Regions from separate parts of the Homo sapiens genome. Here all the other regions are reported to be linked to region 1. Evidence: microRNA targets listed by miRTarBase, many of them from high-throughput screens and not tested one by one. Region 1 holds a microRNA gene; each other region holds the end of a gene's coding sequence.

What was found. The annotated mature microRNA hsa-miR-644a reads AGUGUGGCUUUCUUAGAGC and lies in region 1 at 2,758-2,776, shown strand. An mRNA with a match to its seed (bases 2 to 7 or 8) in the 3' UTR can be bound and repressed. Matches are read on the target gene's strand: a 7mer-m8 pairs with bases 2 to 8, a 7mer-A1 pairs with bases 2 to 7 and ends in A, and an 8mer does both.
Region 2: miRTarBase lists LAD1 as a target of hsa-miR-644a. The part of its 3' UTR that is shown has no 7-base or 8-base seed match.
Region 3: miRTarBase lists MAP2 as a target of hsa-miR-644a. Seed matches in the 3' UTR shown: 7mer-A1 at 2,841-2,847.
Region 4: miRTarBase lists PPIP5K2 as a target of hsa-miR-644a. Seed matches in the 3' UTR shown: 7mer-m8 at 2,254-2,260.

Annotation. Positions count from the first base shown.
Region 1 is chr20:34,463,628-34,470,750 of GRCh38, forward strand. MIR644A (microRNA 644a) reads left to right here and starts at 2,698; the gene lies at 2,698-2,791. ITCH (itchy E3 ubiquitin protein ligase) reads left to right here. Exons shown (of 25, transcript NM_031483.7): 15 at 6,421-6,493.
Region 2 is chr1:201,376,178-201,383,300 of GRCh38, reverse strand. It overlaps LAD1 (ladinin 1), which reads left to right. Exons shown (of 10, transcript NM_005558.4): 7 at 90-227; 8 at 562-648; 9 at 975-1,049; 10 at 1,408-2,468. The coding sequence ends at 1,413. It overlaps TNNT2 (troponin T2, cardiac type), which reads left to right and starts at 5,621. Exons shown (of 17, transcript NM_001276345.2): 1 at 5,621-5,678. RefSeq lists enhancers at 3,015-3,778, 5,115-5,652, 5,653-6,190, 6,595-7,091.
Region 3 is chr2:209,729,184-209,736,306 of GRCh38, reverse strand. It overlaps MAP2 (microtubule associated protein 2), which reads right to left. Exons shown (of 16, transcript NM_001375505.1): 15 at 6,345-6,457; 16 at 2,195-6,125. The coding sequence ends at 5,910. Among named protein-coding and RNA genes, the nearest start is that of UNC80, 39 kb to the left of the region's middle.
Region 4 is chr5:103,200,551-103,207,673 of GRCh38, reverse strand. It overlaps PPIP5K2 (diphosphoinositol pentakisphosphate kinase 2), which reads right to left. Exons shown (of 31, transcript NM_001276277.3): 31 at 1-6,152. The coding sequence ends at 6,040. Among named protein-coding and RNA genes, the nearest start is that of MACIR, 55 kb to the left of the region's middle.

The sequences.
Region 1 (7,123 bases):
ATCATATTTTTTTTTAAATAGTCATCCTTAATGTCGTATTTCATTGTGGTTTTTCTTTGTATTTTTCTAATGGTTTGTGATGTTGAGTATCTTTTCATATGCTTCTTGGCTATTTGTGTATCTTCTTTGGAAAAATGTCTCTTCAAGTCCTTTGCCCATTTGTTGTTGTTTTTTTTTTCTTTTGCGATTGAGTTTTAGGTGTTCTCTATATATTCTGGGTGTTAATCCCTTATCAAATACATGATTTGCAATTATTTTCTCCCATTCTGTGGTTTCCTTTTTACTGTAGATAGTGCCCTTTGATGTATAAAACATTTTAGATTTTGATGTCTGATTTGTCAATTTTTTCTTTTCTTTTCTTTTTTGAGACAGTCTCTCTCTCTGTCACCCAGGCTGGAGTGCAGTGGCACAATCTCGGCTCACTGCAAGCTATGCCTCCCGGGTTCACGCCATTCTCCTGCCTCAGCCTCCGAAGTAGCTGGGCCTACAGGCGCCCGCCACCATGCCCAGCTAATTTTTTTTTTTTTTTTTGTATTTTGTTTAATAGAGACGGGGTTTCACCACATTAGCCAGGATGGTCTTGATCTCCTGACCTCGTGATCCACCCACCTCAGTCTCCCAAAGTGCTGGGATTACAGGCGTGAGCCACCGTGCCCGGCCTGTTTTTTCTTTTTTTTTTTTTCTTTCTTTCTTTCTTTTTTTTTTTTGAGACGGAGCTTCACTCTTTTTGCCCACTCTTTTTGCCCAGGAGTGCAATGGTGCGATCTCGGCTCACCACAACTTCTGCCTCCTGGGTTCAAGCTATTCTCCTGCTTCAGCCTCCCGAGTCGCTGGGATTATAGGCATGCACCACCACGCTGAGCTAATTTTGTATTTTTAGTAGAAGACAGGGTTTCTCCTTGTTGGTCAGGCTGATCTCGAACTCCCGACCTCAGGTGATCCGCCCGCCTCAGCCTCCTGAAGTGTTGGGATTACAGATGTGAAGCTCCGCGCCCAGCCTGTCAGTTTTTTCTTTGTCACCTGTACCTTTGGTGTCATATCCAAGAAATCATTTCCAAATCCAGTGTCATAAAGCTTTGCCCTAAGTTCTTTTTTTTTTTGTAGATAGAGTCTCACTCTGTCGCCCAGGCTGGAGTGCAGTGGCAAGATCTCAGCTCACTGCAACCTCTACCGCCTGGGTTGAAGCGATTCTTTTGCCTCAGCCTCCTGAGTAGCTGGGGTTTTAGCTACGCACCAACACGCCTGGCTAATTTTCGTATTTTTAGTAGAGACGGGGTTTCACCATGTTGGTCAGGCTGGTCTCAAACTCCTGACCTCGTGATCCACACCCCCTCAGCCTCCCAAAGAGTAGGGATTACAGGCATGAGCCACCGCGCCTGGCCTGAGAGTTCTTTAATTTTAGCTCTTACATTTAGATCTTTTATCCATTTTAAGTTAAATTTTGTATATGGTGTTGGGTAAGGGTCCAACTTCATCTTTTTGAATGTGAATGTCCAATTTTCCCAAGCACCATTTGTTGAAAAGACTGTCCTTTCCCCATTGCATGACTGTGGCACCATTGTCAATAGCATTTTACCATATATGCAAGGGATTATTTCTGGGCTGTTTATTCTGTTGGTCTGTATGTCTGATTTGCCAATACCACGCTATAGCTTTGTAGCAAGTTTTCAAATCAGGAAGGTATGTGTCCTCCAACTTTGTTCTTTTTTTCAAGCTGCTTTTGACTATTCAGGGTCCTTTGAGATTCCATATGAATTTTAGGATGGATTTTTTTATTTCTGAAAAAAAGAAGTCATTTGGATTTTGATAGGGGATTTTATTGAATGTACAGAATCAATAAAATCCATATTGATCAATACAGATTCAATATCTGTATCAATCTGGGGTAGTGTGGTCATCTTAACAATATTAAGTCTTCCAATCCATGAATGTGGATATCTTTGTGTTTTCTTTGATTTCTTTCAGCAGTGTTTTGTGGTTTTCAGTGTACGAGTCTTTTGCCTTCTTGATTAATTCCTAAGTATTTTTTATTCTTTGTGATGCTATTGTAAATGGAATTGTTATCTTAATTTTCTTTTTATATTGTTTATTCTTAGTATATAGAAATGGAACTATTTTGTGTTGACTTTGTATGCTGCTACTTTCCTGAATTCACTTACTCTGGCAGGGTTTTTCGTTGTGGAATATTTAGTGTTTTCTTCGTAAAAGATCTTAGCTTCTGAAAACAGATAAGTTTTCTTCTTCCCAATTTGGGTATCTTTTATTTATTTATTTATTTTTCTTGCTTAATTCCTCTGGCTAGAGCTTCTGGATACTATGTTGACTACAAGTGGTGAAAATAGGCATTCTTATATTGTTCCTCATCTTAAAGAAAAAACTTCTAACCATTGAATGTGATGTTTGCTGTTAGATTTTTATATGTGCCTTTTATTATATTGAGGTAGTTTCCCTCTATTCCTAGTGTTTCCTATCCCTGTTGTGGAGTGTTTTATCATGAAAGTGTATTAAATTTTGTAAAATCCTTTTTTGGTATCAATTGAGATGATCATGTGATTTTTTCCCCCCCTCATTCTGTTAATGTGGTATATTATGTTGATTTTTCATAGGTTGAACCTTTTTTGCATTCCAGGAATAAATCCTACTTAGTCAAAAGGATTAAAGTGTGCTTTTAATATGCTGCTGAGATTTTTTTGCTGATTTTTTTTTAGTATTTTTCCATCAGTGTTCATAAGGAATGTTGCTCTGTAGTTTTCTTATAGTGTGGCTTTCTTAGAGCAAAGATGGTTCCCTATTACTTTCTAATTTTATACTTCTACACATTAACAACTTTTATATTTAAAGCAGAAACTGGAAAATCAGGCCAATTTGGTATTAATGAAATTACAGAGGTAATTTAGATATGGGAATAAATTACCGATAATATTATTCTATCATTCATTTTAGTTACAATAAGTTTGGGTGCATATAATAGAAAACACTAAAATAATAGTGGTTTATGTAAGATAGAAGTGTATTTGTCCCCATTATTTAAAAATAGTCCAGCAGGACTTACACCACATCATTACCATTGCTCAAAAAAGAAGTTACAAGAAAAATCAGGAAATATTTTATTTTGAATAATAATTAAAACACCACATATCACAATTTGTGGGATTTAACTAAAGTAGTCTTCAGCGGGAAACTTTTGTTTTAAAGAAGTAGATGAGAATATAGGAAAGATAAAATCAGTGATCTCTGCTTTTACATTCAGATGCTAGAAAAAGGCAAGTTATTAAACCTAAAGTAAGTACAAGAAAGGAAATAAATAAAAGCAGAACTCAGTGAAGTGGAAAAGAAACAATGGAGCGCCCAAAGCTAGAAGATAAATTTTTGGTAAACATTAATAATATTAACAACCCTTAGTAATTAAACCTATAGAGAAAAAAAGAGGGACATCACTGTATATTTTATAGACATTAAAAGGATAATAAAGGGTATATTTATGCCAATAACTTTAACATTTTAGATCAAATGGACAAATTCTTTGAAAGATATGTCACCAAAATGGACACAAGAACAGATAGTAAGTCTAAATATCCCTATAGCTGATAAATCAAATGCATAATTAAATAATTTTTAAGGGCAGGCCCAGTGGCTCATGCCAGTAATCTCAGCACTTTGGGAGGCCAAGGTGGGCAGATCACTTGAGCTCAAGAGTTCAAGACCAGCCTAGGCAACATGGTGAAACCCATGTCTACAAAAAATACAAAATATTAGCTGGGTGTGGTGGTGCATGCCTGTAGTCCCAGTTACTTAGGAGGGTGAGATGGGAAGATTGCTTGAGCCCAGGAAGCTGTGGTGAACCGAGATCGCGCCACTGTACTTGAGCCTGGGTGGCAGAGTGTGACCCTGTCTCAAAAAAAAAAAAAAAGAAAAAAAAGATTTCTCATGAAGAAAATTCTGGCCTAGATGGTGTCACTGGTAAGGTTCATCAAACTTATAAGTTATAAATTAATCAGTCCTATTCAAATTCATTCATAAAATACAAGTGATGGAAATGTTTTCTTTTTCATTTTTTTTTTTTTTTTTTTTTTTTGAGACGGAGTTTCACTCTTGTTGCCCAGGCTGGAGTGCAATAGCCCAATCTCGGCTCACCGCAACCTCGGCCTCCCTGGTTCAAGCAATTCTCCTGCCTCAGCCTCCTGATTAGCTGGGATTATAGGCATGCGCCACCATGCCTGGCTAATTTTGTATTTTTAGTAGAGATGAGGTTTCAGGCCACTGCATTCCACCCTGGGTGACAGAGTGACATTCCATGTCAAAACAAACAAAATTGGTTAAAGGAGAAAAATCATACGATAATTTCAGGAAAAGCTTGTGACATAATACAATGCAAATTTATGAGAAACTCTCAGCTACCTTGGAAACTTTTTTTTTTTTTTTTTTGAGACGGAGTCTCACTTTGTCGCCCAGGCTGGAGTGCAGTGGCACAATCTCAGCTCACTGCAAGCTCTGCCTCCCGGGTTCACGCCATTCTCTTGCCTTAGCCTCCTGAGTAGCTGGGACTACAGACGCCCGCCACCACACCTGGCTAATTTTTTGTATTTTTAGTAGAGACGGGGTTTCACTGTGTTAGCCAGGATGTTCTCAATCTCCTGACCTCATGATCCACCTGCCTTGGCCTCCCAAAGTGCTGGGATTACAGGCGTGAGCTGCTGCGCCCTGCCGGAAACATTTTTATTGGAAAAAAAAAATGTAACAAAAGCTTACAGCCAACATCACAATTAATGATGAAATACCGTAGAACATCAAGAGTAAGACAAGGATATCTACTGTCATTACTTCATTCAACATTGTGTCAGTATTCCTACCCAGTGCAGTGAGATGAGAAAAAGAAATACAGGCCGGGCATGGTGGCTCACGCCTGTAATCCCAGCACTTTGGGAGGCCCAGGCAGGCAGATCACTTGAGGCCAGGAGTTTGAGACCAGCCTGGCCAACATGGCTAAACCCCGTCTCTACTAAAAATACAAAAATTAGTCAGTCATGGTGGTGGGCACCTGTAATCCCAGCTACTCAGGAGGCGGAGGCAGGAGAATCGCTTGAACCTCTGGGTCAGAGGTTACAGTGAGCAGAGATTGCGCCACTGCACTCCAGCCTGGGAGACAGAGCAAGACTCCATCTCAAAAAAAAAAAGAAAGAAAAGAAAAGAAATATAAGATGTATAAATTGGAAAGGAAGAAGTAAAACTGTCTCTTTTCCCCTCACACAAATAACGTTTGTATACAGAAAATCATGAAGAATCTAGAAAAAATTACTAGAACTAGTAAGTGAATTTAACAGCGTAACAGAATATAAAGTCAATGTACAAAATCAGTTGTATTTCTACACTGATATACATTGAATTTTTAAGAGGGAGATAATGCAGTGGTATTAAGTCCAAGGCTAGCTGAGAAACCCCATGGTGTCATAGTGATCTAAAATTCTTCTGTCTTTTCTACCATCCTAGAGTATGGTCTCATTCTTCAAAGTGACCTCATGGTCTGTGACAGCTGCTGAAACTTAAGCTATCAGGGTCACACTCCAGGCTGGAATTTGGAGGAAGGGCAAATTATAAACACACACACACACACACACACACACACTCACACACTTTTTAGCTATTTTAGCTGTCTTTTAGAAAATCCTTCCTTTTTTTTTTTAGACGGAGTCTAGCTTTGTCACCCTTGCTGGAGTGCAGTGGTGCAATCTCAGCTCACTGCAGCCTTGACCTCTGAGGTTCAAGTGATTCTCCTGCCTCAGCCTCCCAAGTAGATGGGATTAGAGGCACCTGCCACCACACCCGGCTAATTTTTATAATTTTTAGTAGAGACAGAGTTTCAACATGTTGGTCAGGCTGGTCTCAAACTCCTGACCTCAGATGATCCACCCGCCTCAGCCTCCCAAAGTGCTGGGATTTATAGGTGTGAACCACTGCACCTGGCCAAAAAGATCCTTCTTGAACGTTTCATATGCCACTTTCACTTAGAGACTTAAGTCACATGGCCATATAGAGAAATGTAGTCTTTATTATATGTAGCATTCTACTTAGTTAAATAGCAAGGGTTTTACTTAAAGATAAAGGAGGGAATTGATGTTGGGATAGACAGCATTCTCAGATAGAAACCCCTTTACTTAGCCCTCTTAGATTTGGCAGCATAGAAAAGAAAATCCCACAACAGTAGTTTCAACAAAATCAAAGTTTTTTGTTTGTTTTTTCTGTTACTTAAAAGTATTCTTGGGGAAATATCTCTCAAAAAGCAAAGAATGGTTTTGTTAGGAATATGCTATATTTTTGAATTTGGTTAGTAAGTGCTGAGAGAGGGTGGGATATTTTGCTTTCCTTCAGCATTATCTTTTACAAGCAGCTATATATGTCCTGTTAACCCTTGTTCTTCCTCAGAGACAATGGACCTCAGATAGCCTATGTTCGGGACTTCAAAGCAAAGGTTCAGTATTTCCGGTTCTGGTGTCAGGTTAGTATTGGAACTGTATCTCTGTACTGCCTTAACTTTGTTGTGTTGCTTTATATTACACAGTGATTGTGAAAATACTTAACTCACAGAAAAACAGGTAAAATGGGAAGCATTAGAATCTCTTTCATCTATTTTTAGAGCAAATAAATAGATTTATCAATTAGATCATTTGTGACTTTGGTTATTCAGAAAATTAAACCTCATGTAATCCCAGCACTTGGGGAGGCCGAGGTGGGCAGATCACTTGAGCTCAGGAGTTCAGGACCAGTCTGGGCAACATATTGAGGCCTTACCTCTGTAAATATATATATATATATATTTCTTTTTTTTAAAGAAGAAAATTAAACTTGAAACCATCTGAATAAGCAAACATTGTCACTTTTTCCTCAGTAGCCATTACTTTCAGATTGCAGGAATCTTCAAATGTAAGTAAAAGCATTTTCTGATATAATTTTAACCAGCTACTTTATTTTTATGTGTTATTTTTTCTGAGACAGGATCTCACTCTGTCACCCAGGCTGGAGTGCAGTGGTGCCATCATGGCTTACTGCAGCCTTGACCTCCTGGGCTCAAGTGATCCTCTTGCCTCAGCCTTCTCGCTAGCTGACACTACAGATGCACTTCACCACA
Region 2 (7,123 bases), not on the chromosome of region 1:
CCTGAGGGGCGGAGGGTGCAGGATGAGTAGTGGGCATGGCCCTTTCCCCTCCCCAGCATGGGTCAGCTGTTGGTGTTCTTGGTTCCCAGAGATCAGAATCTGTCAAGTCTCGGGGTCTGCCTTGCACTGAGTTATTCGTGGCTCCTGTGGGTGTAGCCAGCAAGCGCCACCTCTTTGAGAAGGAACTGGCGGGCCAGAGCCGAGCAGAACCAGCCTCCAGCCGGAAGGTGAGGGGCTCAGGCCCCACAGGGTCCTTAGGGTGATTAGCCCTGACGTCTCCAAAACCCAAATCTTGGCTGTGGCAATGCTAGAAAACTGTTTTCATGTGTCAATTAATGTTGGCAGAACCTCCATTTGAGTTCCCATTCACGTTCCTGAGCCCATCTCCTTAGCTGGGCACACAGCTCCCTGGGGGAAGGGGAGGGGGCTGTCCCAGGTATATGTGGCATGTGCTGGATGCATAGGGGAGTGAGGGAGAGTCCTATCCCATTCCAGGGCCTCTGAACATGCCTCGCTGCTGCCAAGGGCCCTAAACCCTGAGATGGAAAGTTCTCTTTTTAGGAGAACTTGAGGCTCTCAGGGGTTGTGACATCAAGGCTCAACCTGTGGATCAGCAGGACCCAGGAATCTGGAGATCAGGACCCCCAGGTATCCTCACCCTCCCTGATGTCTCTTACTGTGGAGCCTTTGTGGTGGGATGACTGGGGACAGAGGAGGGACAGTCGGGAGAGGAGGAGTCATTTCGGGAGAGGAGGAGTCATTTCGGGAGAGGAGGAGTCATTTCAGGAGTGGAGGCAGTCGGGAATAGATGGGTGTGTGGGTCAGACTCTGGCAGAGAGGAGGGGTGGGTCTGGGTTCCTTTTCTCTTTTGGGAAGAGAAAGGACATCCTGGGCTGGGAGCTGGGCCTGGGGTATCCCGAGCCCTTTGGAGCCTGGTCTTAGTCTCTGGTCTCCACCCTGATACCCTCAATCAGGAGGCACAGAAAGCATCATCTGCAACCGAGAGGACTCAGTGGGGACAGAAATCTGACTCCTCGCTGGACGCTGAGGTGAATGGTGGGGAGGAGCCTGGCCCTACGGCGGAGGGCCACGGTGTACTGTGGGAGACCCCATCGTCCCCGTGTGCACACACTAATTGGCCTGCAATCGCGCAGTCCACCCAGAACGCCCCCATCCCTGCTCATGCAGATTGGTCTGAGCCAACCGTGAGAACAAGGTTGAGCCCTCACCTGGTTGTGCTGCCTGCAGCTCTGCAGAGCCCCTCCCTCTTCAGCTGGCAGATTACAGGGCTCTGACTCCTTGTGGGTGTGGGGCTTGGGCAAAGGGATGCCTTCCTATCCAGTGGCCCCCTTCCCCTTCCATCCCTGACACCCCATTGACTTGTGCTAACAGCTCTTTGCCCCACAGGTGTGACAAGCCCCGCCAAGACAGACCTGCAAGTCTTCGTCTCAAGGGACCTCCCTCATGCCAGGCCCCTGCCTCTCACAGCAGCACCCTTTCCTCTCATTGTCCCTGTTCCCTTTTTGCCTGTGGATCTGTTTGGCCAGGGTCCCTGGGGTCAGGAATATTTGCAAGACTCAGCCAGCTCCTTCCCAGCCCAGCCTCTTGGGGCTGGGACTTTCTCACCCTGCGGCAGGCACAACAGATGCTGGGACCCAGTCTCTGCCCAGGTCACAGCACAAGTGCACATCAGCACTATGGGGCCTATGTCCTGCCCAGAGACCTCTGCTCCTTCCTGCTCACATCCACAGTCAGGGCACGGCGCCCCTCAAGAACTCCAGAGTCACCTGTCTCATCGGCTCCCAGCAAGTGCCTCTTTGTCTATGATGTCCCCCTTCTCTGAGGCCTGGACCCACCCATCTTTGTCCCTGGGGCCTGCTCCCAGCCACTGAGGCCCGCTCTGGCCAGGGGAGAAGGAGCTGCCGTGCGTCTTCCCTGTGCCCCGTCTCCCTGCTTGGTTCTCCCCTCCCTTCCCTGGCCGGCTGCCATGGCCAGGAGCTAAGTGCCTTTTTGTGTGCAACCACTTACCCTTTCTCTGAAAAACCTGTTCTCAGGAAGGATCTGATAAACTCATTTACTCTCAGGTGTAAGAGACTGATGAGACCTTAGAAGCGAATTCCTCTCTGGAGGCCTTGCTTTCTAGCAGAGGTCACCTGAAGTGTGTGAGGAGGATCATCATTTTCCTCATCCCCCCTCTTCTCACATTAAGGTGGTGGCTTGCCACTCAGCAGTCCTAGCTTGGTGACTGGGAACTGCCACATACAGGGCCAGGCCTACCCTCCTTCCCCACAAGCCCCCTCCAACCCCCACCCCCATGCTCTGGACCTCATGGCTCCTATGAGCTTGGAGCATGGTGAACCATCAGAGAATCTAGAACCAACCAAGCTAGGAACATCAGCCTGGTGCCCTGTTAACCCCTTAAAGCTGTGGTTTACAACTTTTCAAAAATTTAAATCATTAGAACTCTCCATCTTGATTGACTGCCCTAGTTTTACCCAGAATCAGCTGGGGATGTGGCCAGGTGCAGAGCCCCCTGCCCATTCCCCCTTTGCATGCCTGGGGAAGCTCCAGGTCTTTTTGGAACACGACCCTTAACACGGCTCCTAAGGGGGTATCACCAGTCCAGTTCCCCAAGTGTGTGGGGGATGAGCCCTAGCCCTACTCTGTGACTCTGGGTGAGGGCTCCTCAGATCTGTGCCCCAGGGGACAGGCCCTCAAAGTGCCATCCGTGCTCAGGTCCCAGTGCCCCAGGCTGACCCACCTCTGGTCAGTGAGTCTCCTGTGCCTGAGTGAGGGATATCGGGACCTGGGGTCCCTGCCCCGAGCACCTCCCACCCACTGCTAGTGCTGGGGCTTTGTGAGTGTTCCAACTTCATAGCCGAGAGTTGGAGGACAAGGCTGGGGCAGGGCCGAGGAACGGATTGAGTCCTGCCTAAGCCTCGGGACATCTAAACAGCTCTGGCTCTGCCCAGACCTCAGGTGTGACCCTGAGCCATTTTCCTTCTCTGAACTTCAAGCAGATGACCTCAGAGAACTTTCATATGTTCATGCCATGATAGGTGAACTTTTCCAGTAAACAAAACTGTCCCCACACAGAGGAGAGGCTCCTGGAGGCCTTCACCTGGCAGGGCCTGACCGTGGAGTAAGAGCCTAGGAAGACACTGAGGGGCCTGTTCCTGCAGCTGCAGCCTCAGCAGGGCCCTTCATGCCTGCACCCCCCTCCCCTGGGGTGCCCAGTGAGGGCTGACTGCTAGGGGAAATGTCGGGGTGCTACAGCACAGCCCCCTCCCCTGTGAATCCAGCACGTGAGGGCCCTGCCCTCGTTCCTACTGGGGACGCAGCCAGTAAACAAGGAGACCAGGGTGTGCCCAAGATGACCTCAGCTGGGGATAGATGAGTGGTAGCGACTGGGTGTCCAGGCGGGTGGGGAGGCCTCTGGATGGGTGACATTGGGCACCTTCTGGAGACAGAACAGGGCTCCCACACACCACTCCGGGCTGCACCCTCCTGCTGTCTTGCCACAGGGGCCCTGTGCCCCACAAGTGGCCCGTCCTATTGTGGATCCTCAAATTTACATGCACTGTTTCAGCATAAGCCTCCCATTCCACTCTGGCTTTGTTTTCTCTTTACATCCCTTTGAAAGGACAGGGATATAAAAAAAAAATGGGCTAAGAGTAACCCTACTATGCCCAGGAGTGGCTGCTGCATGGGGGCTGGATTTCCTTATCTGAGAGGCTGTCTCACAGCGCTCTGAACGAAGCTCCTGCCTTAGAACAATTCGAAGCCATACACGTGTGGCCTGTGACACCAAGGATCTACTGGGCTTTTCCCATGGGGCTCAGTAGTGACCTAGGTGCCCAGATCCCTCTTCTAGGCATCCATGCAAATAAACCGTGGTCTGTTTGAAAGGTTATTGGGCTTACAAGGAACAGTAACCCACCCTCAAGTTAAAAAAGGGTTTGGGAAAAGTAATTCCGAATTCTACGTTACTCCAGGCCAGGACCCAAGGCAAGGCTGGGCCCTGCTTCGTGGGCTAGAATGGGAGAGAGAGATGATGGGGCTCCCCCCACTTTCTTGACAGCCTGACTCCTTCCTCACTATCCCTCGGGAATCTGTCCCCTCCATCTGCCTGTCTCTCTACAAAGTGCCCCTGCTTCCCTGTGGTGGTCCTCAGTCCCACAATGCTGGCCAGCGGGCGGTTGGCTTCAGCTTGCCCTGCCACAGATGTGCTGGCAGTGTGGAGGCCCACGTGGCAGGGCAATCAAGGCCACTGGACTCAGAGGCCACAGGGAACTATGGAGGGGATGGAGTCAGCTGAGTGATGGGACAAGAGTCTGACAGCAGCATGGGTGTGGAGCAAATGGCAGTCCCCTGCGCAGAGGACCCTTTCAAGGACATTAGTGGTGGAGGCAGCATAGTAGCTCCCAAGGCAGAGGGATTGAGAGAAGAGTTTGAGGACTGGGAAGGCGGGACACATGATTGGGTGATGGGAGAAGGGGGCAGAGAATAGCGAGATTGCTTTCTTTGCCCACGGAGAAACAGAGGAGTGTGGATCATGAATGGGCAAGATCTTTAAGTGCCAGGGGGGGTCATGGAGGAGGGGAGGGCCTGCTCCAGAGGAGGACCATTCCTGCTTCAGAGCCAAGCAGGACCTAGGCTGTGAAGATTCGGAGAAAGAGATGGAGGGGAGAGTCAGCTCAGCTGCTTACTGGCTTGCTTTCCTCCTGTCTCTTTCATTTTCATAATCTACCAAACCCTGCAATGGGCCAGCCTTGAACATACAAGTGCATGTGCATGGTCAGACACAGGCAAGCAAGCAAGACCCCTAGGCCTGACCTATGCATCTGCAATCTAGTAGGTTTAGCAGATCATAGCCCCGCACTGCTTGATTTTAAAGCCGTTAGGGGATGACCTTTGACAGTCCGCATCACCCCTCTCACACAACGAGCGCCTGTTCAAGGTTCTTGACTGGAAGTTCTACCTTGTATCTGGCCTCCTGTAGCAGTTTCAGTCCATTCCCTGTGAGGAGGGTGTGCCACATGGCTTTGGGGGTCATGGAGAAGACCCACCTTGCAGATGTCCTCACTGGGGCTGGCAGAGCCGGCAACCTGCCTAAGGCTGCTCAGTCCATTAGGAGCCAGTAGCCTGGAAGATGTCTTTACCCCCAGCATCAGTTCAAGTGGAGCAGCACATAACTCTTGCCCTCTGCCTTCCAAGATTCTGGTGCTGAGACTTATGGAGTGTCTTGGAGGTTGCCTTCTGCCCCCCAACCCTGCTCCCAGCTGGCCCTCCCAGGCCTGGGTTGCTGGCCTCTGCTTTATCAGGATTCTCAAGAGGGACAGCTGGTTTATGTTGCATGACTGTTCCCTGCATATCTGCTCTGGTTTTAAATAGCTTATCTGAGCAGCTGGAGGACCACATGGGCTTATATGGCGTGGGGTACATGTTCCTGTAGCCTTGTCCCTGGCACCTGCCAAAATAGCAGCCAACACCCCCCACCCCCACCGCCATCCCCCTGCCCCACCCGTCCCCTGTCGCACATTCCTCCCTCCGCAGGGCTGGCTCACCAGGCCCCAGCCCACATGCCTGCTTAAAGCCCTCTCCATCCTCTGCCTCACCCAGTCCCCGCTGAGACTGAGCAGACGCCTCCAGGATCTGTCGGCAGCTGCTGTTCTGAGGTAAGGCTCGGGCAGGGCTCTGGGGAAGAGGAGAGCAGAGAATGGACGGGGAGATGTGAGGGTCTTGGGCCCTGGCATATTTACCCAGAGTCTGCCTGTGTCCGCAGAAGTCCATGGCCCCTCCTGGTGGAGGCCACACTTCAGAGGACAGGTTGCCAGGTCTGGGCTCCAAGATTGGTACAATAGAGCAGAGAGAAAGAGAGAATCCCATGGTAGCCATTGGAGACTAGGGTTGGAGTCCTGGACCTGCCACTAAAGATGTAGAGTTTAAACTCTTGGATGAGTCACTTTCCCTCCCCAGGCCTCAGTTTTCTCATCTGTAGAGTGGGCTAAATATTTGCTAGGCCTCTGCCTGCTCTAAATACAATGAGGCTCTAACCAACAGAGACTCCCCTAAATTGCTTGTTCCAGGCCGAGGGTCACCTATACCTTTCCAGTCAGGTCCTTCTTGAGTCCCAGGGAGCAGAGCGAGACTGCAGCCCTGTCAGTCAAGTGAGTCTCCTGGTCATATTCTCAAGGCTAGGAACTCAGAAACTGTCCTGGAAGTACTGAGAACGACCAGATGTGCAGGGTCCTCTGCAGCGCCTCTCCAGGCCAACGCGGGAATTCCATTTGATGCCGCTGACTCAGTGCCATTCCCTCCCAGAGCTGAGCTGAGCTCCCAGACCCTGAGCTGAGCTGCACTTGGGGGGCAGATGGGGAAAGGCCCCACTGGGAGAACCTGTCCTTGGGTGTGAGCCCAGCTGGTTGGCATTAAAGGGTTTAACCTGGGCCCCCGTAAGTGTAACCCTTGTCCCATCCCACCCCAACACCCCATCTTGGGACAAGCCTTGCTCTGTGCCCAGGAGTGGTAGAGAAAGATTCCCTTGGTTTCTAGTTTCTCCTGGGCAGGCTGAGGACTATTCAGGGAGGGGGTTGCCTGGTGTGTAAGGAATTTCAGAGCACATTCCTGGCCTGCTGTAGCCGGGAAGCTACCTGCCCTCCCAAATTCCTTTTCTGACCCATGTCTTAGAGGGCGAATCTTCCTTCTCTCTGCAAAAGTGGAATCTGAGAGGATCAGGTTGCTGGCTGCCTCCTATTTCTGACCCCCACTTCCACTCTTCCTGCCCTCTCCCCATCCCCTTACCCCCGCTCTCCTGGTGGGCTAACAGCTGTTGGCTTAGGAAAATCCCATTCGAGTGCTGGGGACAAGGACTGAGGGGTGGGGCCTGTGTTTCTCAGAAACTCGGAGACTGTTTCTACAGGGACAGAACTCAAGGCTCTCCTGCTTTGTAGTTGGTTAACTGAAGTCAGAGAGGCTAGGTGACTTAAATAAGGCCACACAGCAAAATCTGGGTTTTAAGCCCAGATTTTTTGACCCCAAGGTCAGTATGCCTTATGCCTTCTATTGTCTTTGCTTTACTCCCCAAGAAAGGTGACCCTGTGAACGTGTTAGGCTTCCAACA
Region 3 (7,123 bases), not on the chromosome of region 1:
TTTTTTTGAGACAGGACAAAAGCTATAAATATTGGTGTTCCCAGTTCTCTGTCACCCTGAGGATTCTAATCTAACCTCCCTAACTCCCTGGCTCTAGGATTAGGGGCTCTAGGATTTTGGACTTTTGTTTTATAGGATGAGGAAAATATTGGCGAGAAAGACAAGTGTGCCTAGGTCAAGGGTTACAAACTCTAAATCTGTAGTTTAATGCTTATCGTAATGAGTGAAAGCAGAGGGGTGGGAGAAAATAATAAGCCTAGCTGGGCATGGTGGCCAAGTCAAGGGAATAAACCCCATCTCAGAGGTACCCATGGACAGCTCTGGTCAATGGTCACCAAGAGCGAAGATCCAAATCTGGGATGTGTGTGTGTGCATGTGAAGTTTCTGAAATTTGAAAACAGTTTGCAGGCCAAATAAAGCCTATCTGGAGGCCACAGGTTTATTACCTCAACTGAGGCCTGGGACAGAGATTGTCTTGGAATTTAAGGGAGTAGAAGTGGAAACAGCTGAGGCATATTTGTGAGGGAAAGGCATGAGAGGTGGAAAAAGGGCTTTAAAGAGTGTGTCCATGATGCTGCTTTATCATGCTCAAGAAAGTCGAGTGAAGGGCTTAATATTTTGAAACAATTTTAGGTTGCTAGACTGTATACTTTTGACAATTTTCTAGCCCTAAATTCTTGAAGTCTCAGGTCTACAAGGAAGTGCCACATCATAAACAAGAAGAGGAACATTTATCTTTCTGTAAGTTACACTGAATGTTATCCTGTCATCCTCCATTATTTACGGTTGTCTCTTGTCAAGGCAAATAAACCTTTCCTTGCCTTGTTAACAAATAAAAAAGAAAATCAACAATTTTATGGTGATTCATGCTACTGGACAAATTTAATCCTCATGGTTTGAAGACTCTGAAGGACAACATGTGTGCTGATTTTAAGGAATTATTAGAGATACACTAATAATTCTTGCTAGGTTCTACAAAATCTGCATTATTAGCAAAAGGAGACTGAATGAGAAGTGATGCCATTAATAAGAGAAGTAGGTTTTAGCCAAGTTAAAATAGTCTGAGGGCTGGAAAACCTCTAATACACACATAAGTATTTCTTTTACCAGTCACAGCTTTCTATGCCTTGGTTCCTAGTTTGACATCAGAGGTAGGGATGCTGTCTCAAATAGTCTTTGGGATAACTTTTATCCATTAGAGACCTGCAACGGAGCTCTTTCTCCTTAAACACATTAGCAGGGACTGAATGAGCTTAGTGTTTCTCAAATTTTTGAGTGCAGATGAATCACCTGGAGGAATGTTAGTTAGTTAGTCTGGGGTGGAGTCCAGAAATTTGTATTTCTATCAAGCTCCCTGGTGAAGCCTGAGCATAATCTGAGCTGTAAGGAGCTAAAAGATGAACAGGGGTGCAGCTATACCACGTATTTGTTTTTGTGGCCTGTACAGTATCAATTCCTCTCTTCTGGCAGGAGTAGCCTGAATTAACTTTGGGGGAAACGTTTCCTCTCCACGATTAGCTCAGGTAGTATGGAGGAGAATAAAGCCACTTCTCCCCTTATTCTCCTTCTACTCCAACCACCTGTGACAGAGTTGGGTACGTGAGCCAATCCTGGTCAATTAGCATAAGTAGGCAGGAGATCCAAGTATTAATCGTTCAGTGATTTTCAGACCCTGGATTTGAGCTACTGTAAAGGGGCTTTCTTTGATAGGTTGTGAAATCTGGAGCTTCTGGTGCCCATCACGGAAGGGGTGCCTGCCTGAGAAGGAAGCCAACACAGAGGATGCAAAACTAAAAGTTGGAAAAGGGAAGATTCCTGATGACGTCGTTTGAGGGCCTGGACCCAGCCATGCCTGAGGCAGATACACCTGAGTAGTCAGTTACTTGAGCCTACAAATTCACCTTTACGTTTAAGCCCGTTTAATTAGAATTTTTGTCACTTGCAAAAGATAGCATCCTGCTAATACAGTAGTGATAAAAATAAATTTCCTTATTAATTGAGCTAATATAAAATCATTTAGTATAGAGCCTGACACATAATAGAAACTCAGCCATAATAATAGCCTTGTTTTCACAATTTTTCTTTGGTTGTATTACACACATGCACACACACACGCACTATATCACTATATATATATATAAAATTTTTTTTCCAGAGGAGAAGCAATTAAACAGTCTGAAACCAAAACTAGCAGTTAGGTGACAAGCAATTTTATTTTGCAAAACAATCACTATACAGCAACAAATACATTTGCAAATTTGATTGAAAAACATGAACTAACTACAACCAGCCATTGAAGAAATGCCTTTCTATGGTAACAGGCTCTAGAATTATCAGAAGAAAGAAACCCCCCACAGATTTGTAACAGTGTGTTGGAACCTCGGAATCCCAGCATACAGAGTATACTTTTTGTTGATTTTTTTTTCTTTTTGCTAAAGTTGAAGTAGATTTTTATGATTGACATTTTATTTTCTGAGTTTGAAAATAAGCTTTTTCCTGCAGAGAGTCTTGGCCTTCACCTACACACCCAAGCTAAAAATCCTAGGTGTAAAAAAACTCAAAACATCAATGCTTATTTTAGCACGTCAATCTTTGAAGGAATGCTTAAAATTTCCTTACCAAGCCATGAATCTACTTTATCTCTAGTATTTAGACCATGAGTAGTTTATTTTCCTTATTGTGGCTTGAAAAATAGAAGAAAACTGTAATTGCAGCTATGTCAAAATCAACCACATTCAGGTTATTTCCTTAATAAAATACTGATGGAATGTTATATATTGGCTGATTATTCCACGCTTGCTGTATTACTGTAGGTGTGTGTGTGTGTGTGTGTGTGTGTGTGTGTGGAGAAGGTCACTACAATCAGTACATTCTTCCATTTAATGGCATTCTCTCTTCAGCCTTCTCCAGCCGTACCTAGCTGGTGTTACACAGGTGTCATACTTGTAGGTGGGATGTCAGCCCATCACGCTGCTGGAACTCAGCAGGTAAATCCAGAGAGAGTTGGTTCCTAAATGAACGTGGCCTTTGAAACTCATCATGAACTCGGGTCTTTCCTGCATCATTATGAGGTATCCAATTTCTGGTTGCAAGTGACCCAGAGGTTGAGTTCACTGGAGAAGTTGGCCTTTAAACTCTTCACAGCTCTGGATTACTTACGTATTCTTATACAGGTTCTCAAAGGCTAAAGCCAGAGAGAAACTGGCATAGTAGATCTAGAATTGAGACCACGAAGATTTCATTCCTAGATCAGCGTATGTGTGTCCCCACAAGAGTGGTGCTCAAAAAGCTTAATTTGAGTCGTTATCTTGAGAGTGAAGGCAAGATAGGTTCTACCCCTTAACCCCACAAGAAGATATTTAACCTGTGTGTTTCTCTCTTTTACTGGTACAAACGATCAGTTCCTTTCTGTTAACTTTAATAAAGAATTGTATTTCCATACAAAGCAAGAACATTTATTCATTATAATTTTGTTGTGATTAGAAATAAACATTTGTTTTAATGCCAAATCTAGTAGTTTGGTGCCTTGTATAATCTTTATTTTTGACATGTATTTGTAATAAACTGACTTCTAGTATGCAGAATGTTTACCTAGTGTTAACTTATATAAAAACTTTAAAGAATGTTGAGAAAAATACTTATTTCACAGGTTAAAACTTTTCTAATGAGCTGTTAACTTCTTTCTAGAGAAATTTAATCACTATTTAAGACTATGAAAACATGTAATAAAATACCCTAAGTCTCCACACACCTTTCTTCTATTTTCTGGTGCACTTCAAGGGAAGCTGATGAATAAATTGCCCAGATTGGTCAAATCAAACCTCACAGCAATTAATAGGCAGAAAATAGATATAATGATCCTAAGGTTTCTAAGGTTTTGACTGTCATATAAAATAACTGATTTATAGATGGTTTAAGACACGTTTGCCTGTGTAAAATCTCTTAGCTGAGAATGAGTGGTGTGGGTTTGCTCCTAGGGTTTCTTGTATGGCAGTTACACTGGTTGCCATATCCACTGGGTCACCAAAAAGCACCTGTGTCTCTGCCTTTGCATCCCTTGGCTTTTGTCTTGGATGTTTCTATACTTCCCCGTTGCCTCAGTACATCCTCATCATTTCCTCCTTTATATTCAGGAACTGATTTGGCTCAAAGAGATCATACGCCTAGTGGACCATTTGATTTTAATGGTTCAGATCCAACCTACCAGCCCTGAGCAAGAAAAAGAACAGATAAAATTTTTAAAAAGTGTCCATCTAGCCTGGTAGCTCTTTGCCTTAATCAGGCCATTGACTATTTCATTCCTTATTTGTAAGTCTAAGATGAATGATTTGTGAGAGGAACTAATTGATTTGTGAGTTCTAGACTGTATATACAGTCAGAACAGTATTATCTACTGATAAATAATACTAGATCACAGTGTGTTACTTTACAGAGTGCAATGTTGGAGTCTTGGAAAAAAACTGATTTAGATATCTGTGTCTCAAGTGTTTTATAGCTATAGCTTCCCAAAGTATTGTATTTTTTCTTTCTGATCAGGGGATCTTTACTTTGGGTAAGAAAGACAAACATCTTCTATTAGAGAATTTAATAAACAGATACTATTTGGAAAAATGAGAAAACATGTTTCAAACTATTATAGTTAGTTTCAACTTTCAACTTTAGCAAATGGAAAAAAAAAGAAAAATAAAGAAAAAATCTTAAGTCGGTTTCATGAATAATAATAGGAATAAACCCCAAACTATCCTGTGATTAAAAATGAGATAAATCCATAATCTTAAACCAACAATCTGTAAACCCTTTCATGTATAACTGGACCCACCCCCACAAACTCCATGTTGGTGAAAGCAAAGAAAAATAATTTTTTGTCTAGCATCACGGGAGAGACTTGTATCTGGCACTAAAACAGGGTTACGGCTTTGAGTTGTTACAGAAAGCAACTTCATGCTAAAATTTTTTGTCTTTTTTAATGTATTTTTTTTAAATAGGGAGAGAACCCTGCTAACATCTACTTTCACATATCTAAAATTGCAACACCAAAGGGTGCAGGAGACACAGATACTGTGAATAAAGAAGTATAATATTCAAGTATATGAGGAAGTATCACAAATGGCCACAGAGAAATATATATATATTTATATCTATAATACTGTATCAAACAGATGGAAAGGGGGTGTGAAACTGGTAGTGTGGACACAAATCTAGCTGATCAACTGACATTCTAATCAGACACGAGTCCATCCTAATGAAAGTGCATCATTCCTAATGGATGCACTTTTACACCACTTCCTCAACCACAGCTCAAATGCTTTGCAACTATTTTTTAATTAGTTAAATAATTTATTGGACTGACATACTCTGATATAATTATCCAGGTCCCAAATGTTAATAACTTAATTGAATCTTTCTTCCCATTTATACAAAATAACACTTTAAAAAAACTTATTTCTTACATGCTCTTCCCTTCCTGCAATCAGACTCCTTGGTTTAATTTAACCTGAAATAAGTTACAATGGGCAGTTTTTATCTTCTCACTCAGAAACAGAATAGTGAAATGAGCAGCTTGGATTTTAACAAGGCCTTCAGAATGTAGTGGATAGCCTTCAGGCACATGAAAGGTAAAAATGCAATTTTTAAAATAATAATACTCCATGCAAAACAGAGCAGAGCAAAAATAATTGTCCAATTGAACCCATGTAAAGCCAGTGTCTTCCTGTTGCAAATGGAAATCAGGTCAATTTCTGCATGTACTATTCATTTTTTAAATAGAAAATTGTAACAATTACTACAGTTTGGGGATGAGATTATTTATTTTATGGTTTATAAAGAATGAATATAACAACTGCTCAGAGCCCACTCCTGCCAAGAGCTCATGCCTAAATATTATTATTTCAATGCTAAATGAGAAATATTCACAAGCCCTGCTTAGCGAGTGCAGCAGTGACATCCTCAGCCAAAGTGGCAAGCTGAGGAGATTCGAGCAGGTTGATGCTTCCAGACGAGGAGACATTGCTGAGTCGTCGGGGTGATGCCACGCTGGATCTGCCTGGGGACTGTGTAATGATCTCAGCCCCATGGTCCACACGGGCTTTAGCATGCTCTCTGAAGTTCAACTTTTGGCTGTCAATCTGTTTAAGACAAGCATCAGTCCTCGTTAACTCATGCATCTTAACTGGCCCCTACCTCTTTCTCCATCTCCCAGGGCTGACATTAATGACTTCTATTCACCTCTGTTATCCCCACTTCTTATTTGTCCAGGTCTACAATCTGGGACCTATTTTGATGAAGAGTATTTCAGAAGAATTTTTTTTAAAAAGACAAGATTGGCTCATAACCTTGTTTCTTACCTTGACATTACCACCTCCAGGTACATGATGAGCATTATCAAGAGAACCAACTTTAGCTTGGGCCTTTTCTTTGAAATCTAGTTTTACACTCTCAATTTTCACACGTCCGCCACCTATGAGGGAAGAAATACCTTGATTTAACTATATCTTGCATTCGTGGTAACTATTTCCCAAAAATGACTGCAGTAGATAGACTACGGCAAACCACAAATTTATTAACTTTACCATCCCTCCAACCATATATGTAAAAAGAGTCTTTTAGAATTTCTAGCCCATATCATTTCCTCATATGATGCAAGACCATAACACCCTTCTTATACTATTATATGGATTGCTTCACGTATTAATACCTTTCTCCTTTACCCATGTCTAACCTAAGAAATCAGAGGGGCTTTTCTTTTTGGTATAACAAGAACTCTAAAAATTAGCAAAATGAAAATATCTTATTTGAATCCTTTCTAAAAGTTGGAACATTTAGTCTCTTATTTCTAAGGGACCAAATTAAATTTAAATGAAACTCTTCTTTATATTCATGGTAACAGGTTACTTATCCAAAGAAGATTTAGGCTGGAAGTGGTGCACATGTGGGCAATATATTCATTTATGAATGTTCAACATTGAAAGCTTCACTGATGAAATGAGTCGGGAGGTAAGTTGTTTATGACTAGTAAGCTTTAAAAGCCTCCCGTTTCATATATGGAGTGACAGATCATCATCTCTTTCTTGTATGGATGCCATAGGACCAATATGACGCTGACCTTGATCTGATAATATTGAGA
Region 4 (7,123 bases), not on the chromosome of region 1:
AATCAACCAAAACTGTGCAGTAGAGGAAAAAATACACTAATTGGATATTGTTCACAGCAAGGAGTCAACAGATAGGATCTATATATATATATATATAGACTTTAAAATTAAATATAATTCAAAATCATAGTGAAGGAAAAAACCATTAGCACAACAAGTGAACTATAGCAAATGTGAATAACATAATGCAAGTGTAGTATACAGCATACATTGCTGATTATGTATCCATTATCCATGCCCTCACTATCCAAAATGATGATTTTGGTCATATATCCTTCTTTTCCACAGAATCATGTGCTTTAGGGCAGTGGTTCTTAACTAGGGTCAATTCTTCCCTCACAAAAGACATTTACTAATGTCTGGAGACATTTTTGACTGCCACAGTTTGGAGGCGATGCTGCTGGCATTTAGGGTGAGGAGATATGTTCCAGGCCAAAGTCTGATGTGTGATCTTTCAGGCCTGACCATAAGCAATTACAAAGGCTTTGCCTGACAGGCTTTGTAGGGGAAAGGTGCCCTTCCCACATGAGATTTAAACACAGCCAGTCTCTGGAGGGAGTTGTATCTGGTGCTCAGGACCCCCTGGGCTGGCCATGTCTATAAACCTAGCTGCATTCCTAGACCAGGTACCTCCATGCTGAGTCTTCCTTATCAGGGGGCCTTGGTTGAGACACTTTTCAGGTGCCTCCACAGAGACCTCGCTATTGGTGGGCCTTGACTGAGACACTCATCTCCACTCTGACTCAGTTGTTTTCTACTTCTAACCCTTCCCTGCTCCCTGTCCGCAGTCCTTGAGGTCCATAAGATGGCAGGAACCTTTTGTTCATTGCTCCTTAGCAGTGAAACAATTTCCTCTGCCTGGACTGCATGTCGTCTGATTGACGCATGTCCAGTGCTAGTCCATGGTAGGGGAAAAATGGAACAACAAGGAGCTGGCCCTACTTTCCTTTTTGGTCTCTTGCTTATAATTTTATCATAGTAAGTGAATAAAGATGTGATTGTTATTTTCATTTCAGCTACTTACCTTAACTGACTCTCAACACTTCACAGCTAGGTACAGAGATCCTACTAGACATGCTGCTATGCATGGAACAGCTTCCTATGATGTAGAATTTTATGGTCCAAAATGTCAACAGTGCTGAGGCTTTTCGGAAAAACTGACTCCATCATCTGCTCTAGGGTCAGTAAGGTCATGGGAATCTCCTGGAGTATTCTATTTATCTAGGGGTGAGTAGATGATCAAAGAAGTTGGCTCAATCACACTGAAGTAGATGGCTTAATATTAATATTCCAGGATTGGGACAGAACTTCCCTCAATTTTTATTGTGTTGGACATGAACAAAAAAAATATGTAGTCCTCACTGAAACCGACAGCAATTATTGTTAACACGAGAGAAAACAACTTTGGGATAAAGTTTATACTATGCCAGAGGTGACAAGGGAGGTCACTTGGGCTTTTGATGACAATATGGCTAATGCAACTGTGGCTGAAGCCAACCCCACCTTTGGACCTTCAGAAATGTGTAATAATACATTTTCTGATGATTTAAACCAGTTTCAATTGGAATTTTCCTACTTGCAGTGGAAAGTATTGTTACAGAAAGACAAAAGAATTTTAAAGCAATAAAAAAAGCAAGCACAATCTAAAAGCAAAGATACATTACATAAAACAGACTACACTAATCTATTAAGTAAAAGGGATCTTAAAATTGAATCACAAAGCAAAACCCAATATATACTATATTAAATAACCTAAAACAAAGTGACACAAATACCAAAAAGTAAAAAGATGAATATCAGGCAAATGCAAGCCAAAATAAAGCATAGGTCATAATCTTAATATCTGACAATTTATAGAACAAAAAGTATCCAATGGACAAAAAGGACATTTTAATAATGATAAGGTAAAACCTATAATGAAAATCTAGCATTCATGAATTTATATGCACCAGAAAACATACCCACATACTATATAAAAAGTAAAGTAAAAACCATTGATAATAAAAGGAGAAATTGACAGTGATCCCTAAGCGAAAAGATGTTTTTCTCACAATCCATGACAAAGCACATGAACCAAAAGAAAAGCAGTTTATAAAAATCTCAATGAGATATCATCTTACAAATGAGATACCATCTCACGCCAGTTAGAATGGCGATCATTGAAAAGTCAGGAAACAACAGATGCTGGAGAGGATGTGGAGAAATAGGAACACTTGGTGGGAGTGTAAATTAGTTCAACCATTGTGGAAGACAGTGTGGCGATTCCTCAAGGATCTAGAACTAGAAATACCATTTGACCCAGCCATCCCATTACTGGGTATATACCCAAAGGATTATAAATCATGCCACTATAAAGACACATGCACACGTATGTTTATTGTGGCACTATTCACAATAGCAAAGACTTGGGACCAACCCAGATGTCCATCAATGATAGACTGGATTAAGAAAATGTGGCACATATACACCATGGAATACTATGCAGCCAAAAAAAAGGATGACAAGGACATGGATGAAGCTGGAAACCATCATTCTCAGCAAACTATCACAAGGACAGAAAACCAAACACCGCATGTTCTCACTCATAAGAGGGAACTGAACAATGAGAACAGTACTTGGACACAGGGCGGGGAACATCACACACTGGGCCTGTCAGTGGGTGGGGGGCTGGGGGAGGGATAGCATTAGGAGAAATACCTAATGTAAATGATGAGTTCATGGGTGCAGCAAACCAACATGGCACATGTATACCTATGTAACAAACCTGCACATTGTGCACATGTACCCTAGAACTTACAGTATTAAAAAAAAAACTCAGTAATATATTTAGTTAAGGAGCTATAATTCACATAGATTATATAGTACACAATACTAAATAGATTTTTTAATGTGCTCTGTTCTCTGAAAATAGAAATTAGATCTTCCACAAAAATTGACCTATATAAACAACACTTTACACAGTAATATTTTGGTACCTACGATTATGTACAGAGGGAAACCTGTTTCTATGTGGACTCCAATCACAAATGACTCCTTCTGAAGGAGTGTAAAAATTATTCCCATGAGCTGGGTGTGGTGGCACGCACCTATAGTACCAGCTATTTAGGAGGCTGAAGCAGAAAGATTTCTTGAGCCCAGGAGTTCAAGGCTGTAGTGAATTAAGACTGTGCCACTGCACTCCAGCTGGGGTGACAGAATGAGACCTTGTCTAAAAAAGAAAAATGTTCCCACTGGCAAGAATTCTGTTGTTTTGATATCTCCCAACACAGGAAAAGAGAATTAGAGAGGGGCTAAAACTGCTGGGCCACTCTAAGAGAAGAGATCCCAACCCCAACTAAGAATATAGGCAGTCTACACTGTCCAGATAGTAAGGCAAGGATAAAATGATGTAAAGTTAATAAACACTGTACACTATGTGTAAAGCAAATTCTTATAAATACACAAAGACTGAGAAATTTCTACCAAAGTATGAATACAAAACAAAAATGTGAAATCTTGGTTCAAACTGGCATGGCACTAGTTAACAGTGGACATTTAGGTCAGACAGAGTCAACCCAAAAAGAAATCCGGGTGAAAACAGAAACTTTTTCCTTGGCTAGTGAGTTTTAATTGGATATTTCTTGAAGAACTTTAACTTTTCTCTCATAATTTCCATCTATTGCCTTTGTGCTCTATGTTTATGCTAAGCACACTGCCACATGTTTTTGTTACTTTACTGTATTCCCTTCAGCCTCTATATCTTGTCTATCACTGACATAAGGTGTTCAGCACACTTTTCTTCACCCAAAATTGCTGTACCACGCCCCCCAAATTTGCTAGTATTTGAGAATGGACTACGTAACTCATTTAAACCAGGGCAGCAGAATCTGCCAGCACTAGACTTCAAGGGCTAAGTTAGGTCTGAGCCTATTATATGGCTTTTAAGGGTGAAGGAACTGAATAATACATTATGAAGATTAATATCTCAGGGTGACTAGACAATTCTTCATGCTGGGCTAGTTCACCTCTTTGGGATGGAGGACTGGGCTCTAAGAAGAAATATCTTCTAGTATTTAAAACCAAAAAATCCCACATCTTCTCAGGACAGAATCAAGTGAGAAACAGATGCTTCAGTCAAACTGCCACTAAACAGTGATAACTATAACATTTTGCTCTGATACAGTAGACTTTTTATTTGTTTTGGAAAGTGATTCTAAGATTTTTACAAATAGAGTGTCTAGTCTACAGAGCAATACTACTGAGTTTGGTGACTACAGGAAAGTAATAGTTCTTGCATAACAATGGAAAAAGTTAGTTGTACTGTACTTTCTAGTTTGGAAAGTAATATATTGCTATGTATATAGCCAATAATAAATTTTATTTAATATGTAAGTACTAGTTAATAAAAAAATTCCTGATTTTTTCTACTTTGAAAACTAAAAAGTAAGAGATAAGAAAATTTTAAAAATTTACCATTTAAGTCTCTTTGATTCTGGAAATATTTTAATTAGGTTCCACTTTAAAAAAAAAGTAGCTTCCTTATGACCTCCACAGTGAGTACATTAACTACATTTTCACAAACAGAAAACTTACATACATTCAACTGTTTACAAGACATGTCTCCATATAACACATTTACATTCATGTGAAATCTATGAACTTCTTTAATTGCATATATTTATGACTCTTACATCTGGTACCTTTTAAAACAGCTAACATATAGTATGCTTATTTCCTATAAGTTAATTAATATATGACTATTTAAGGTGAGAAGAGTCTCATTTGAAGAATTACAATAGTTATATTCATACCATGGGAAATCAATAGTTTTTCTAAACATAAATTTCAAGCTAAAGCTTTAGCAATTTAAGTTATTTAACTACCAATGCATGAAATTCTTATCAGATTGTCCCATTTGGATTACAGTTTAAGTCATTTCAAGCTGTTCACAATTATTTGTGCATTGGTGGGGGGGAAAGCACCAAGGATAATAAATTGATTTTTCACATCACAGATGAAATCACAGCGCAATGATTTCAATATCCCTTCAAAAATCTAATCATTTATAAAGAGCATTTATTTCAAATGCTCAATCTTTAAGCTTTCTTAGTGTGATCAACTGATACACTAGGGATAAGAATGGAAATGGTTAAAAACAGATGCTATACATAATACTTACTAACTTAACAGAATTCAGATTTCTCCTAACATTGTTGATTTCCATTTTTGAACTGACTTCTTTAGATCTAAAAAGAACTCTGAAAGTAAGTGTAACATTTATACACTTGTCAACTATACTTAAAAAGAAACTCTGAAGGTGCCTTTCTTGTCAAAATACAAAACAAAAGTTTTCCTGATGAACAAGGCACCTTGTATGGTAAGGAAATATATAAAGAAAATATTTTCTACAAATTAATATATAAATCTATGTGCACAAAGGTGTAGTTCTCCCAGCTGCATATGTAATATTTTAAATAACACACAATAAAAAAATTCAAAACACAGATTGAAAAAATAACCCATGTGGCTAATACTCCAGTTGTTAAATATTGCAGCATATATGTCACTGTAACAATTGGGAAAGATATTCTAATCTAAACGGTTAATGAAATCTCTTTGGAAAGACACTTTAAAAGTCCCCAATATGTAACCCTGGCTGTCAAATTTCAATCTAGAAGTTTTAACAGCTAAGATGCAATCCCATGAAAATAAAAGTGTGCACAAAGGCCAGCTCATCAGACTCTGCAGTACATAGCATTACTGCTGTGACTTTGGTACGAGCCTGCTGGGCTTTTATGTTCCTTTTCATTACTATGTGCACATGGTAAACATCATATTAACAACAATCGATTTTTATCACTATAAGTTTTGCTGCTCACAGAATGCTAACAAACATTGTTTTAAACATTTCCAGATCATGACAACAGTTCCTTACCTGAACATAAACAAAGAAAACCTTAGATTTAAAAACATTTTTAAGTGAACACATAAATGCATAAGGAGAAACATAAGAACATACTATTTTTATAAGTATAAAAAGTTCCAGCTTCTGCTAAGATTTCATTTCTTTTTCCCAGTGTTTTTTTTGTGTTCATGCGTTTCTGTTTTGCTAGTTATATTCTTTTTCCGAGATGAGGTATTAGGAACAACTGCACTAGAAGGTCCACTTGTAGCTACATAAAACAAAAACAAAAAAAAAAAACTATTGCTTAAATTTACACAAACAATCCAAGTTCAAATAATACTGCTGATTGACAAAACAATTCTTGTTATAATTGTGATGTAAATGAAATGTAAAAATTTAATATAGCATTTTTAACCTTTTACTTTTCAGAATTCAACACAAATATAGAAAGGTAATGACAATGGGCTGTGTTCACAAAATTAATTTCTCATTTTACTCTACATGCTTCCTAGGAAATGAATATATTTTCATAATTTTTAACTACCATCCATTGTGCTAATGATTTTTAAATTTATACTTCTGGCCTGGGCCTTTTCCTTTAGCTCAAGATATGTATATACAACTGCCAATTGAAACTTTCTTTAAAGATATCTGACGAGAAAGACAAACTTAATATGCATAAACTGAACTCATCATTTTCTCTACAAGCATCTATTTCCTCTTGTATCTTCTATCTTATCCCTCTCTAAAAAGCTAGAAGGTAAGAAAACTAGAAGCACGCTTGACTTAGGAATCATCCTTCTGTGTCTAAACCAACATGAAGTCTTCATGAATTATCAAAAAACTATTCTAGGCCAGGCAGGGTGATTCATGCCTGTAATCCCAACACTTTGGAGGGCCAACGTGGGAGGATCGCTTGAGCCCAGAAGTTCAAGACGAGCCCTGGCAACATAGTGAGACCCCCTTCTCTACAAAAAACTTTAAAAATTAGCTGGGTGTGGTGGCACACACTTATAGTCTCAGCTACTCAGGAGGCCAACGTAGGAAGATTGCTTGAGCCTGATAGGTTGAGGCTGCAGTGAGCCATGATTGCACCACTGCAGTCCAGCTTGGGTAACAGAACAAGACATTGTCTCAAAAGAATAAATAAATAAATAAATAAATAAATAAATAAAATAAAAAACCATTCTAGGTGGCATTACATTATTACATTTCTACTATGGATGAATAGATGTATGG